Linked DNA regions of Homo sapiens. Each later gene encodes a partner of the first gene's protein in a complex. Each region holds a gene or a part of one and is shown on either strand. Other genes may lie near its edges.

Region 1 (7,018 bases):
GTGAACAAAGGACTGACAGATTGCCCCGACTATTCTGTGGAGTGGACTTTGTGTGTGTATGGAGGGGGTTGAAGGAGGAAGGGCTAGGTGATGAGATCAGAGAGATGAATCCAGTTAGGAGGCCAGAGAGATGGTGGTTTGGATCAGTGTGGCTGTGAAGATAGAGAAAAGGGCATAGACTTGGCAGAGGGGACGAGATTACAGCCGAATGGATATAAAGAGTGAATGGGTGAAGCGAGCAGGACTGAAAGATACTACTGTTTTCACAGGAGCAGCTGAGTGGATGGCGGAGCCCTTGACTGAGATGGGGAATGGTCAGGGATACCTGGGTTGGGAGTGGGGGCTGGTATGGATGAAGAGTTAGGTTTTGGCTGTGCTAAGTCTTGAGATGCTTTTCAGGCATCCATGTGGCGAGGCCAAGGGAGCAGTTGGATATAAAAACATGACTCTGGAGTGCAGCTGGAATTGCATACTGTTCTGTGTTTATTACTTTACTAAATATTTGTTGGCTGAGAGAATGTTGTGTACTTTGTCCCTGGTGGCTTGTTGGGTAATGTGTGGTCATGGGGAGCAATGGTGGCATATTAATGTGTGAGAAGGACCTGGTCAAAACCGGCTTGTTGTCCCTGTTAGCAAAATCCTCACTTGTGTAGTGACACTAGTGACTACACGATGTAAATAAGCACATTGTAAAGAAGCAATGTAAATAAGCCTAACAGGCTGCGGGTGTATAAGGTTAAAAGTGGTGAACTGATTAAAAAGAGTAATCGTTCTTGTCACATCTTCCACAATTTTGTCATCTTCCCTGTATTATTTCTTCTCAGCTGCCAGCAGGAGGCAGGACAGTGTACTGCCCAGGTGTGAAAAGACCAACAGCTGTACCTTGTCTTTTCTTCCTGTTACTCTGATTCTTGCCTATTTTGGACACATGTAACTTTCAGACCCACCTGGAGGAACTCATTTGCAAATGAAGCAGTCAAGGAAAAACTGCATTTGAGAGGCTGCTGTGCACGGACAGTGTGCGGTGTGCTTTAGCAGAGTTCTGCTAGAAAGTTCCTTTTTTCCTTAGAAGCTGAATCTTTCACAACTTACAAAAATGGGGGAGTGATTGATTTAGAATTGTGTGCTCATGTTGGAAGTGACAAGTTATTTTTCCTCCTCAGCTCTAGATTCTTGTGTGTAGCTTGTTGGTTTAGAACGCTGAGGTTTATAATGTTATTTCTTTAGTTTGGATAGGTTGAAACAGGTGTGTGTTAAGACTCATTATACTGTTGTCTACGATTTCTCCCTATTCTGAGTCCCTCAGATTTATGTTCATCAATCAAATAGTTCACAATAATGAAATGTCTTCATATTAATCGTTGATTAACTACACAAGAGGTGGCAATTCCTGCTGCCTTTGTGTTTTCTAAGGTTATGTCTCCCAGGGCCGCCTGCATGGCTATATTTCTTCATTTCTTTGGACAAAATAACATCACCCTGTTACAACTTCCCTGAGGTCATGTCACTGAACTCTGACAGTCATCCTGAGATAAGTGTTACCCCCATTTTGTAGACAGCTTCAGTTTCAGTTTCTATTTCGTTGAGTCAAGGATAGTTCTAAGCTGTTTTGTTTAACTCCTTTGCATAATATCTACGAAAAAAATAAGTATGTAGCAAAACATTTTTGAAGGTGATTTCTTCCAAATCAATCATAGCAAATTGTTTTTCCTTTTCTATTCGAGTAGAAAGGCTGTTAGATTTCAAGTAGTTGAATCATGGTCTCAAGGCCTGGCTCAGTCCCCTGCTAGTTGTGTACCCTTAGGCAAGTTATTTATCCTGTCTGAGCCTCAATTTCTTTAGGATCTGAGGATAATATCATAGCATATTAACTTTGTTCTAAGACTCCATTGATTATACGATGCACCATCAATTTAATGCAACTTTTTTGGGGGACAGGGGAGTAGAAATTACATTCAACGAGTGTATTGATTGTAAGACACTCTAATTTCAGAAACACAGGAACGAGTACCTTCAAATTGAGGAAATATGTTATCTACTTCTTGCCTCTAGTATGTAGAACACATAGAAAAATGTTTGTAATACCCAATAAGTAGCCTGATAAATAAGCTATTCAAAAATAGTTGCCTCCTACGTGGTTGGTATGGGAAAAAAAATAGTTGCCAATTTTTATTTATCAGCCAATACTTTATGCCTTATTTCCTTCTCTCCTGGACAGTAAGATTCTAATTTTAATTAGTAATTGCAATTGAAATGTAACTGCTGGATGATTATTCTGCTTTGTCTTCTTAAAAGCATCCTGACTTGAAATGGGAAGATGTGAACTCTTGATTTCTCTAATTTATTTCCAGGAATAAGAAATGGTACCAACCAATTCTGTGACTCAGCCTTGTGCTTATATTTGCCAAGCTTTTGCTTATATATCACATTTAACCTGATGACAGCAACCTTAGGAGACTGATTTAAGGGTGTATTGGGGAAGAGAGACGTTTCAACATAGCAGGGAGGAGAATGAACTTGGACTATAGGCTGAGCATAGAAGTTCTATATCCATCAAGGTTTGGCTATAGAACTCTAGTGGCAAGTGTTCTGGTACGTAATTTAAGATCTTTCCTTAGTAGTCCTGTCCATGTTGAACAGTTCTGCTGTGTTCTGTAATAATGTTGCCCATTAGATTGTGGCTTTTTAAAAAACTTTTTATTGAGTTACAATATACAAGCAGGAAAGTGTATGTATAATAAGTTTATAGCTTGAGTTTTTAAAAATTCAAAACATGTATACAGCCAGCATTCAGATCAAGAAACAGAATCTCTAAAAGCTTTCTCCTGCTTCCTTCTGGTCACTGTCCTCTCTAAGGGTGACTATGCTCTTGATTTTTAATACCATGTATTGTTGTTGCCAGTTTTTATGCTTTTTATAGGTGGAATTATGAAGTATGTTCTCTTTTGTGTCTACCTGCTTTTATCAACATTATGAGAGTCACCCATATTGTTGCATGTGGTTATAGGTTGCTCATTATGGGACCATACCACAATTTATTTACTCATTCAGCTATTAATGGACCTTTTGGGCAGTTTCCAGTTTGGCTATTATGAATGGTGCTGCTATGAACATTCTAATACATGTCTTGGTGAACATATGTACTTCTTGGTGAGGAGAAATAGTAATTTCTGTTGCCTATATATCTAGGAGTAGATTTGATGGCTTCTAATTGCTCTTTTTAAAGATTAAGTGCCTTTCATTTGTTTAAATGAATGGAAGGGGCCTTTTCTTGCCTACCCGTTGTGTCTCCCCACCCAGCAAAAAAGGCCACAGTTTACTAAACTAGCATTTGTCACACAGGTGCTCATCATCTTTCTTGCTTGGTGACTGATATATACTTAAGTCCGAATCAAGTGATCCTTATTATTTCAGACAAATCCTCACTTTTCATACTTTAAAAAAAAAAACACTAGATTCTGGATGGCAAATTATTTCAGTAGCAGATTGTTTAGAAGATTTTAGCTAAAGGATGGCTGCAACCTACACTCTGAAGTTGTTGGACTAATAACTGAGGAACAATGTCTTATGTCTTCTTTAAGGGTGTATATAGCAGTGAGCACATGGGCTACATGTCCTTGTTAAGTGAGGAACTCTAATTAGGGCCCAGCTTTCCTCCTGAAAAAACTGGGATCATTATGGGCCTGGCCTTGAGGTTGCTGTGGACTTAAAATGAGATACTCCCCCACGAGTCCTCTCAGTAAGTGTGAGGCAGGCAGTCCTCTGTCTGCAAGTCGTGGCTCTTTGTGCTGCAGTTGGCTGCCTCTTAGGCTTTCCAGGGTTGAAAATGGGCCTCTTCACTCCTGGCACTGAACGTAAAGCCAGTTCCTTCTCCTTACTGTTTACATATCAGGTCGAGGAAAAAATGGGATTTAGTTGGATACTTACAATGGGGATTTCCGAAATATGTTACACTGTGTCCTTCTAAAGAGATAAGCTGTCTTCTGGTGTTTTCAGATTATAATTTTAAAGTAACACAAAAATAATATTAAGTCTTTTAGATCAATGAAAGCAAGTATAACTCAAGGGTAGGCTTAATGAACAGGGAAAAGAAGTGAGATATTTTGACAGACACTGATTTCCAAAGAACAGGTGCAAACAGTGACTAAAAATAGTCTTATGTCATCAGCATTAGAGAAAATGTAGTCAGACAAAAACAAGGTTTCTTTTCCAAAACCAGGCCTTGAGTAACTTATAGGAATATGGGGGTAGTTGAAATATGAATTTATAAAAACTGGTTAGCGGGTGTTTCCGAAAAGATTGTGATAATACAATTAACACACCCACACATATTAATTCTTTTTGCATAGTATCTTTTTAATTCACTTTCTTAATTCCAACCTTTTACAAATCCTGTAAGATAAGGAAGGCAGAAGTCATAGGATAATGTCATTGGGTAGATGATGAAGCCAATTTGACGTCCATACTTTTCCAAGGGTCCAGGGCTACCTAGAGGGTTTGCTTCTGGTCTTTACTCCCAGTCCTTTTCTTAAGCACAGAGAATTAATTAGTAGGTTTACTCTGAGTCTATTTCAGGATTACACAAGTGTCTGTAGTAGTGAACACTTACACTAATTGTAATTGTACCTCATAATACTGACGCCATTTGTGAGAGGGATTGTAAAAATAGGGGCTTAGTATCACAAACTCTGGAGTCAGACTGTCTGGGATAAAATTCTAGCTTCACCACTTACTGGCTGATACTTAACCTTTTCTCATCCTGTTTCCTCATCTATGAAATCCGTCTCCTGAATCAGTGCGTGTAAATAAGCTGAGTAGCACATTAATTTATTGATTTCTTTAAAAAAATTAACTATGGAAATTGAGGCTCGGAAGTGGTGACTTATAAGCAAAAACTTAAACCCAGGTCTTCTCAAGTCATCTCCAGTTCCCTTTCCACTAAACTATCCTGTTTCTGTGATAAAGTTGTGAATGAATCAAACCAAATGTTAAACTATTTTATTTTTCTGGTTTAATACACGTTTCTTGGAAAGTCACTTTTTTGGTATGCACATTGCATTTCCCTCTACAAGGAATTAAGCTCTGAGGGTTACATTCCTGTACTTGGAGAATGGAACTGGCCAGTCTGTATGTGGCCAGTCCCCGTGACTGACGTCCTCCATTCCAGCCACACTTGAATTGTTAGCAGTACCCATTCAGTTATTGTGCTCTTGCAATTCTTGGGGCCTTTGTAACAAGTCCACATGTCCCCTCCCTTGTGCCAACCCTTTCTTCCTTTGACAGCCTTCCCCACTACTCTGAGGAATTCAGGGGCCATGTCTTTTGTGCTTGGTACATGCTAGTGTGCAATGAGATAGACACATATCTCTCACACCAAAAGCCAGCATTTTGCTGCCATTTCCAAAAGTTTAGGAAGGCCATCTGCTTCAATCACTATTTAGCATTGTTCTGGTGGGGGTGCCAGCCAGTGAATTAGACAAGAATGAAATAAGATACAAAAGTTTATTTACAGCTAGGGTTGTATGCTTGGAAAGCCCAAGAAGCTCAATTTTCTTTTTTGTTAAGACATAGTTTCGCTCTTGTTGCCCAGGCTGGAGTGCAGTGTTGTGATCTCGGCTCACTGCAACCTCTGCCTCCTGGATTCAAGCGATTCTCCTGCCTCAGCCTCCCGAGTAGCTGGGATTACAGGCATGTGCCACCACGCCCGGCTAATTTTGTGTTTTTAGTAGAGACAAGGTTTCTCCACCTTGGTCAGCCTGGTCTCGAACTCCCGACCTCAGGTGATCTGCCCACCTCGGCCTCCCAAAGTGCTGGGATTACAGGCATGAGCCACTACTCCCGGCCGAAGCTCAATTTTCAATATTGTAGGCAGTAAGATACTCAGCTTTTGTGGTTAAGTATAAAAAGGTAGAAAGAGATAGCTCTATAGACAACTCTAAAAGCTATGAAAAACTTCTTGGCTGGGAATTATATCAATATCACATGGATATAATAAAAGAATGGTTCTAATTCATTTAGAAAAATAAAATATTGAGACTAACCAAGAAAATTGTGACAATTGTTGAAGAAAAAAAGGGGGAGATATTATTTAGCTGTTTAACTTTACCAGCTATTAAAATATGTTATAAAAGGAATAGAAACTAGGCTAGGCCCAGTGGCTCATGCCTATAATTTCAGCACTTTGGGAGGCTGAGGTGGGAGCATCATTTGAGGCTGGTAGTTTGAGAGCAGTCTGGACAACATAGGAAGAGCCCGTCTCAAAAAACAAACAAACAAAATTACCAGGTGTGATGGTACATGCCTGTAGTCCTAGCCACTTGGGAGGCTGAGTGGAGAATTGCTTGAACCCAGAAATTTGAGGTTACAGTGAGCTGTGGTCAAAACACTGCGCTCCAGCCTGAGCAACAGACTGAGACCTTGTCTCAAAAAAAAAAAAAAAAAAGAAAATAGAAATTAAAATAACTTGATATTGGCATAGGAACCAATTCCAAACAGAATGGTGTTAAAATAGACCTACATGTAAAAGAGACTAGAGTATAAACGTTCAATGAAAGTAGTTTTTCAAATAATTGGAAAAAATGTGGGTTACTCTGTAAATGGGGTTGGGAAAACTGGGTGACTATTTAGAAAAACAGTTGGATCTCTTCCTCATTCCTTGGATGCACCTTGAAAGTGCTAAAATAAAACCATGAACACTTACATTCTTGGAGCGAAAAGACTTTCTAAACATGACACATCATGGATACATATGCCTACATTTAATTAAACTTTTGTATGTCAAAATATGGCAAAAACACCATGAAAGTCTAATGACATCAGAAAATGCTTGCAATGATGAGAAAGAGAAATTTCATAATGTATGAGGAAATGCAGCCAGGTGCGATGGCTCATGCCTGTAATCCCAGCACTTTGGGAGGCCAGGACAGGTGGATTGCTTGAGCTCAGGAATTTGAGACCAGCCTGGGCAACATCAGGAGACCCTGTATCTACAAAAAATATAAAAATTAGCCAGGTGTGG
Region 2 (7,535 bases), on another chromosome or scaffold:
ACACCTGGCTAATTTTGCATTTTTACTAGAGATGGGGTTTCACCATGGTGGTCAGGCTGGTCTCGAACTCCTGACCTCAGGTGATCTGCCCACCTCGGCCTCCCAAAGTACTGGGATTACAGGCGTGAGCCACAGCACCCAGCGCTCTCTCTTTTTTAAGAGCGGCCTCGTGTTAGTAAGGCTCAGGAAAACATAAGCATTAACCAAAGTAGGAAGGCCAGACAATGAAGGAAGCAAAGAAAATAAATTTTTAAAACGAATTTCTTCATTCAACAAATTCATGAGTCTCTATTATGTACCAGGCATTGTTCTAAGGGCTGGGGATACTGAAGTCAACAAAACAAGACAAAATAGTATTCCCATTGGAAATATCCTCACAATTTGCAAGAGACAAAGAAAAATGCTGTGCTCAGCTAGGAAGCCATGGGGTTCTTACATCTTTGGGTCCTGATACACCCAAGAGAAAAACAAACCCCATTCATCTAACAAAATGGTAGGCCTTCTGCTAACCCTCACACATAGGCTGCATTTTTAACCACTGCCTCTAAACTAGTTTCTAACGACAGTTTCCTCTGCTCAAATTTGCTTCCCCCATTCCAAAAGTCTGCCACTCCAGGCACAATGCTGCTGAGTAGGCAGACTCTTCCAATGCTTATCAACACACTAGAGGCCAAGCATGCTCAATGTGACAGTTGAGAGCAATGTAAACCCACGAGCTCTCCCACTCCTGTCCCATCAAAATACTCTTCCAGGGACTGCCCATCTTCTTGCTTGACTTATAGAACTGGGACTGGAGAAAAATAAAACGCCAGATGCCTCTAGTCACCATAGTTTTTTATTTTTTGAAACGGAGTCTCCCTCTGTTGCCCAGGCTGGAGTGCAGTGGCGCGATCTCCCTCACTGCAATCTCTGCCTCCCTGGGTTCAAGTGATTCTCCTGTCTCAGCCTCCAGAGTGGCTGGGACTACAGGTGTGCACCATCACCATGCCTGGCTACTTTTTGCATTTTAATAGAGATGGGGTTTCTCCATGTTGCCCGGGCTGGTCTCAAACTCCTGACCTCAAGTGATCTGCCTGCCTCGGCCTCCCAAAATGCTGGGATTACAGGCCTGAGCCACTGTGCCCGGTCAATAGTTTGTATTTTAATCTCAAAGCTGTATCCTAGGAAAACCTCCATTCTGCCTACCATCCCGGACTCTGGCTCTGGAGATGAGTGGTATGCCCTTTTCTTAAGGTAAAGCCTCTAATTCCCCATCTACCTACTGAGATCAGATGTGGTAATCTCTAAAAGACTGAATTTGGCCTGACCATGGGCCAACAGCAGTTCTGGACACTCTTTGGGGCAATCCTCCATTGTCTTCTGTATAAGTCAATCCCTTTCCAGAACTGCACAGGGGACTCCACGGGACTTGGAAGGGTTTCAGCTAAGAGTCATCAAGGTGACCAAGAGGTTAGAAACAGCTGATGATGCCAGGTTCCAAGAATTTTAGATTTTTACTTTTGAAAATAAGAGGCTGACTGCATATAAACCAAAAGAATACTTTCAGAATAAGTGACTCTTTTAAATAAGCAACTGAGTAATACTTTATCCGAATTCAGAAACTTGAGAAAAAGGAACACACCTCAAAAAACTAATCTCTTCAAGGAAGGAAGGTAATTTGCATAGAGTTTCCTTGGGCTGGCTGTGTTTTTTTTTTTTTTTTTTTTTTTTTTTTTGCCTCTAAAAGCTCTCTATTCTAAATTGAATGGGCTGAGGTAGCCAAGTTTTATCTAACGCTTTCCTAAGGATGGAGGTGGGGTCAGAAAGCCCCAGAGCCCGGGTAATTTCTCAATATAGCTGGTTGGGGAAAGGAGTGCGCGCACGTTTGTGTTTTTGAAGAGTTAGTGCAACTCTAAACTGCACACCACGAAACCTGGAAATCTGGAAAGGCGCACAAAACACGAACTGAGATTCCAACTTTAGCAAGAACCTAAAATGTTAAAGAAAAATTCCTTTCTCCCCACCCACGAGTCATAACATTAAGGAAAACTGGCTCAAACTTTCTAGTATGAACAACAGGCCTAAAGTAAGAAGACCAGAAGCGAAAGGTAGGGCTCGCCCTCTCCCTAACAGTCCTTCACGACTCAGGTCACACACAGAGGATGCCCACCTCCGGCCCCGCCGACCCGGCTCCAAAAAGGCGGCTGTGAGCTTCCCTGAGCTCGGCGGGCCTTCCCCGACCCCGGGCTCCGCCTCGGTGGCAGAGCTCCTGAGGCCTTCACATGGCGCAAAGTCCACGCCCACCGGGCCCGGCTGGGGCCTCGGGCTCGCGGGGCCTGCTCTCTCCGGGGACCAAAGGCTTTCGGCGGGTGGTAGGCCGGACGGCAGACTGGCGCCCCAAAGCCCCGGGGCGCCGCGCCGGCGGAGTGGGCCGGAAGACCTGGCCAGGCCCAGACGTCCGTTCTAAGGGAGCCAATCGGGCGGGCCGGGGCCTGCATGACACAGCACGATCCGGCCCAGGCTCCGACCCGGACCCAACGCAAGCCCCGCCTAGGGGGCGCGCGGGTGCGCAGCTGGCCCCAGCCGGGCCTGCCGGGTCCACGGCCCCTCACTCGCCCCCTAGCTTCCCTTCCCTCTTTCCTGGTCTCCACCTCTCTGACGCGCCCACGGCCAGGCCCCGCCGGGCCTACCCTGCGCGGCTGGTCCCGGTGCGCGCCGCCGCAGCAAGCGAACGGCGCGCGCACACTCACTCGGCTCCAGAAGCCATGGCGCGCGCCTCTCCCGGCCGGCGGCTGTGGCGGCCCGCGGGTAACGGCTACGAGCGGTGGCAAGCGACCGACTGGGCCGGGGCTCGGCTCTTCCAGGCGGTGGGCGAGCAGCGGCGACAAACCCGCAAGCGGCTTCCCTCTCGCTTCCTCCCACCGGCAGCGAGGCGTCGGGCGAACAACGCTGGCTCCTGATCCGCGAGGTGGCAGTGGCAGTGGCAGCGGCAGCGGCAGCGACGACTCAAACGACGGTCGCAGACGCTTCGCTGAGACTGAGCCGAGAAGAGCCGAATCATCGGAAGGGAAGCTGCTCCCACCTCAGCCAATCAGCGCCTGCCCTGCGGACTCTCGCCCGCCTCTCCGCGCCTCTCCCCAGCAACCCGCAGATCACAGCCAATCAGGAAATTCGCTTGCGGCCTGGCTCCCGCCTCAGTGATGCGACACGCCTAGTAACGCCACGTCAATTGGCCGCAACGCTACGCTTCCTCGACGGATTGGAATTCTCAGCCAATCAACGAAAGGAATAGGGCGAGATCGATTAGTGAAAGGAGACCCTTTAATCCCTTAGAGGCGGACTCTCCCACTTGGCTCCAGTTCATTGGCTCCGGAGTTTATCCTCCTGGAAGAACGTGGCACAATAGACTGAACCCTTGTATTAGTCTAGTCCTATTGTGGTAACCCATACACCCATCTTCTCCCAAAACCTGGAGATCTTCTAAGACGCCATCACCACCCTGACACTTCTTGCTCCTTCTCAACGCTGCCTCCAACCACCCCTACTCTGAACTTTCTGACTAGCACCCCACTCCTACCCCATTGTCACTGCACCCTCTGGTAACCCCAATCCCACAGCCTTTGCAGTTTCTCAGCGCTTGTGCCTTTCTTCCTCCCGTCATTAATATTAATACCTTATAATAAGGCACTCAAATCCAGAGAAGTCAAAGGGCAACCACAGAACACACAGCCAATTCAGTAGAACCCAAATTAGCAAGAAAACTGCATATGCTGGGACTTGAAAATCCTTGGGCCCCAAATAACAGGGGTCCCTGTTAGTAGTCAACAGGCAGCTGTTGGTGATATGCTGACTCAATTCACCTTTCACCCTGTACCCACACAGACACATTTGACTAAGACGAGTCGAATTTCTAGAATTTGGAATTAGGAAGGGAGTGAAGAGTTACTCTGAGAGAAACCTGCCTGTCTCTAAGTAACAGGTACCTGCCCTTGTCCTGAGAGGCCTATCTAGACCACCCTTCAGACCCAACTCCACTCATTGTCACTGTCCTGGGCTTTGGGGCTCTGCATTCAGGCAATGTGAAGGACTAAAGCCACTGCCTCCAAAGTGAGGATTCCTGTAGCCCTTTCCTCATACCCAGACTTCAAGTTCATAAGGTAGACGATGTCAGGAAAGGGCATCATAGACAACTAGCACTCAACTAGACGGTCACAAGCCTTCCCACGCAAGTATATGTAGTAGGCAGACGAGATAAATATGAAATTTTACTCGACAACAGAAAAGGAGAAACAGGAAAAAAGGTGCCTCGAGCAAAGTCAATGACTTGGTGGTGGCAGAGATTGTTTCCTCCAAAACGAGAATGGTAGTAACTAGGGCAAATTTCACAGGCCTACCACCAATCTCACCAGTCCAGGAATTATATAGGAATGGTCACATTCCTAATGATGGTGAAGCAGAAAGCCCTCCCCACAGAGAGACAGCCCACTGGGGACCCAGCTCAAGCTCTTCAAAACGTGGCAGCTACAGGTCACAAGACTTTGGCAGAGATGTCCGAAATTCTTCAAGGAAGGCGTCACGATCAGAGGGACGGATCCAGCTCAAATAGCTTTCTAGGTACAGGGGGAGAGACCTGGAGAGAAAGAAGGATGATGCCTAAGGGTGAAAGATTGGCAGAAAGCTGGGCAGCCATACCCCCGCTTTCAGTGTTCACCACCCACAATAGGTCCAAGGACTCTAGGACACCAACTGCCCCTCAGCCCCAAGCCAGCAGGCCTGAGCCTCACCACAGAGCATCTTCATGTGACCCCTTAGTTTGGGCCTCCAGCCTCCACCAGAGTGCAGTGGCCTCATCCCTCCGATCTAGCCTCTTCAGAGTCTGAAGCAGGTGAAAGTAAGTGTCTCGATTACCTGTAGCCCCAGCCCAGAGTACAGAGTCTTAGAACTTGACATAGTCTTAGGCATTGTTTTATAAAAAGGGAAACTGAGGCCTAGAGAGAGGAAGTATCTTGCCTACACTCACATATGGAAGCGGGGGCAGATCATTCACAACCATTCCCATCCCAGTGTCCATCATCTGCCCCCTACTCCTGTGCAACCCACAACAGCAGAGTCATGGTCTTTGTGTCTGAGGATATCGGGGAAACCAGGGAACTCTTGGGAGCCCTGCATACACACTGTGTATATTTGAACACCTGGATATATCCCTAGGTATATATAGCACAACCCCAATCACCCCTCCTGTCTGAGAACACCACTCTTACACTTACGCCCAAGTATTTCCCATGGGCCTCTCTGTCCTTGCACATCTATGCATAGCCGACGTCATGCAAGTATACATACCTGGGCACATCTGCACACTGAGGAGGAAGTCCTGTAAGGCTTTGGTATCCTGGCCGCTGGCTACCCATTCCAGTCCACGACTAATTAGGGCGGCTGCCCGAAGCTGCTGCAGTGCCGCATCTGACTTACATCCCTGCTCACAGTTGAAAGCTGCCCCTGGGGACCACTCCCAAAGTCAAGAAGTGTCTTCCCAGCCTCACAGTCACCAAAACCCCAAATCCTCCTCTATTTCTTCTTGTGTCCACAGTCCCTTTCTCTTAAGTCTCCTGGTGGGCTGGGACACATTAAAGGGAACCCACTTCCACCACTACCACTTCCAGGAGGTAAGAGGAAAACTGAAAGTTTAGATCACCTTGTTCTTTTTCCTCAGGTGTGGCCCGGAAGAGCAGCTCGAGGCACCTGAAGTAGGACACAGAACAGGGGTGAAGAGGAATCAATTTCAGAAACTCTAGGGTAAGTAGGTGAACATGGAGCTCACCAACTCAGGTCCCAATCAGAAAATCATCCCTCCACACCCCCTCTAGGACCCCGGGCTCACCTGCTAAATTCACTAATTGCCACTTTTTGGGCACCCAGTTGAACCCAGGCCTGGCCCTGAAGCAGGTGGGTGGCAGAGACCCAGAGTGGGCAGTATGGCAGTTCCTTGGTTCCTTTTCTGGCATCTTCCCACAGCCGGGACATCTTGGGTAGCAGAGATGATGTGCGGCTGAGCAACTCCTCACATAGAGTCAAGGCATCTTGGGCTCTGCCTGCCTGGATCAGTGCTACCGCTGCCTCCAAAAACACCTCAGGCATACAGGGCCCTGGAGGGGAGGGGGGTGGGGAGAACTGGAGTGGGAAGAAGAAGCAGTGTCTTGAAAGGCATGAGCCACCATCCCCAACCTCTTCACCAGGCTCTGGTACCATGCAGAGTCCTGGGCCCCCAGACTGGACAGACAGAATAGAGGAAAAAACAAAAAATTGCAGTCTTGCTGTATTTCAAAGGGGACACCAACCCGTCTACCCCATTGCAGAGAAGCTTGAAGACACACCCACCCTTGGCTCCGAGCTATCCAGCAACAGGGCCAGCAGGTCCAAGTAATGCTCTGCAGCGTCTCCTGCCCTGAGGAGTAAAAGCCCATAAGCCTCACCCTAGGCCCTAGCAGGGAACCTGCAAGGGTCCTGAGAATGTTCTCTCTTAGCTAACAGATGGATGTTCATGGGCCCTGAGGAGGAGAAAGGGAGGGAAGGTCTTAGGGCTCCAATTTTGGCTCAGTATGGATCTACCCCAGTTACAGAATGGACTGGGGAAGAGACTTCAGAGTGTCAAAGATAGAGAAGGTTAATGTCTTAGAGAAGAGTCCTCAGTTCAGGTCTAGAAGCAAGGTAAGAGGCTGAGGAGTGGCGACCTATGTCCTGCCACTGCCTCATTCATCCCCCAAGTCACAAGAACAAAAGCAGAGTCACACCCCAGGGGAGGCATCAGAAGTGGGAAGAGAAGCTCAGGTGAGCAAGGGGAACCTCACCTCCCCGTCTGTAGGCACCTGCTTGCTAGTATGTGCTTGGTCTGGCTCTGAGTGCCACAATGAAGGGGTGAGGCTAGGTCAGGTGGTGGCAGTAGTAATTCTACCTCAATGAGAAACTGCGGGGCTTTGGAACTGCATGGGACATTCAAGGCCTAAAAGAGAAAGAAAAAAATTGTATCTATAATCTTTGGGAGCCATACTTCCTTATACTTGGATCTTGACTAGTCAAGTCACCCCATCACAAGCACCTCAGGAATCCTCCACCCCACATCTTCACCTGGCAGTTCCCTACCTCAACTAGCAGCTCCAGACTCTCCAGCTCTGCTGTTGTGTCCCCCAGTTGCTGATAGAGCCTAGAGGCCTCCAGAAGTGGAGGACCCCAGGCTGATCCCTCTTTCAGGGCTGCAACCAAGTACAACAGTGCTCTCTGTGGATTTCCCTAAAGGGATAGGAGGACACGGGCCTCAGCTACCCTTACAAAGCAAAAAGCTATACATAATGCTTGTGGTTTCCCCAATCCACCCTAGGACTGTCTTTACCATCTTACGGTGACAGGACCCCAGTGCTGTGTACACCTGGACCAACACAGGCCGTGGACACAGGCCTGAGGCCGCTTCATGAAGGCTGCTTAGTGCCTTGTCTGGGTTCCCTGTGATCAGCTCCTGGAGACCTGAGGACAGTCAGGGTGTGAGCTTGGAGAGGGCTATAGAG

What was found.
Region 2: the proteins of DERL1 (region 1) and VCP are in contact, whole or in part, in a cryo-EM structure (PDB 7Y59), measured with the Homo sapiens proteins. Residues at the interface, in NP_077271.1 of Homo sapiens: His240, Trp242, Gly243, Gln244, Gly245, Phe246, Arg247, Leu248, Gly249, Asp250; in NP_009057.1 of Homo sapiens: Arg113, Ile114, His115, Phe131, Leu135, Lys136, Phe139, Leu140, Val166, Glu167, Thr168, Asp169, Val176, Ala177, Pro178, Asp179, Thr180, Val181, Ile182, His183, Cys184, Glu185.

What each region holds. Positions count from the first base shown.
Region 1 is NC_000008.11:123,032,288-123,039,305, reverse strand, and holds part of DERL1 (derlin-1), read left to right. Parts: intron 1-7,018. UniProt on the Homo sapiens protein: Functional component of endoplasmic reticulum-associated degradation (ERAD) for misfolded lumenal proteins. Forms homotetramers which encircle a large channel traversing the endoplasmic reticulum (ER) membrane.
Region 2 is NC_000009.12:35,069,608-35,077,142, forward strand, and holds the start of VCP (transitional endoplasmic reticulum ATPase), read right to left. Parts: upstream 3,019-7,535; 5' UTR 2,747-3,018; coding exon 2,730-2,746; exon of another isoform or gene 2,150-2,729; intron 1-2,149. Other genes in the region: FANCG (Fanconi anemia group G protein), read right to left, coding at 4,501-4,609, 4,764-4,887, 5,320-5,475, 5,672-5,718, 5,858-6,147, 6,355-6,421, 6,825-6,976, 7,117-7,263 and 1 more. UniProt on the Homo sapiens protein: Necessary for the fragmentation of Golgi stacks during mitosis and for their reassembly after mitosis. Involved in the formation of the transitional endoplasmic reticulum (tER).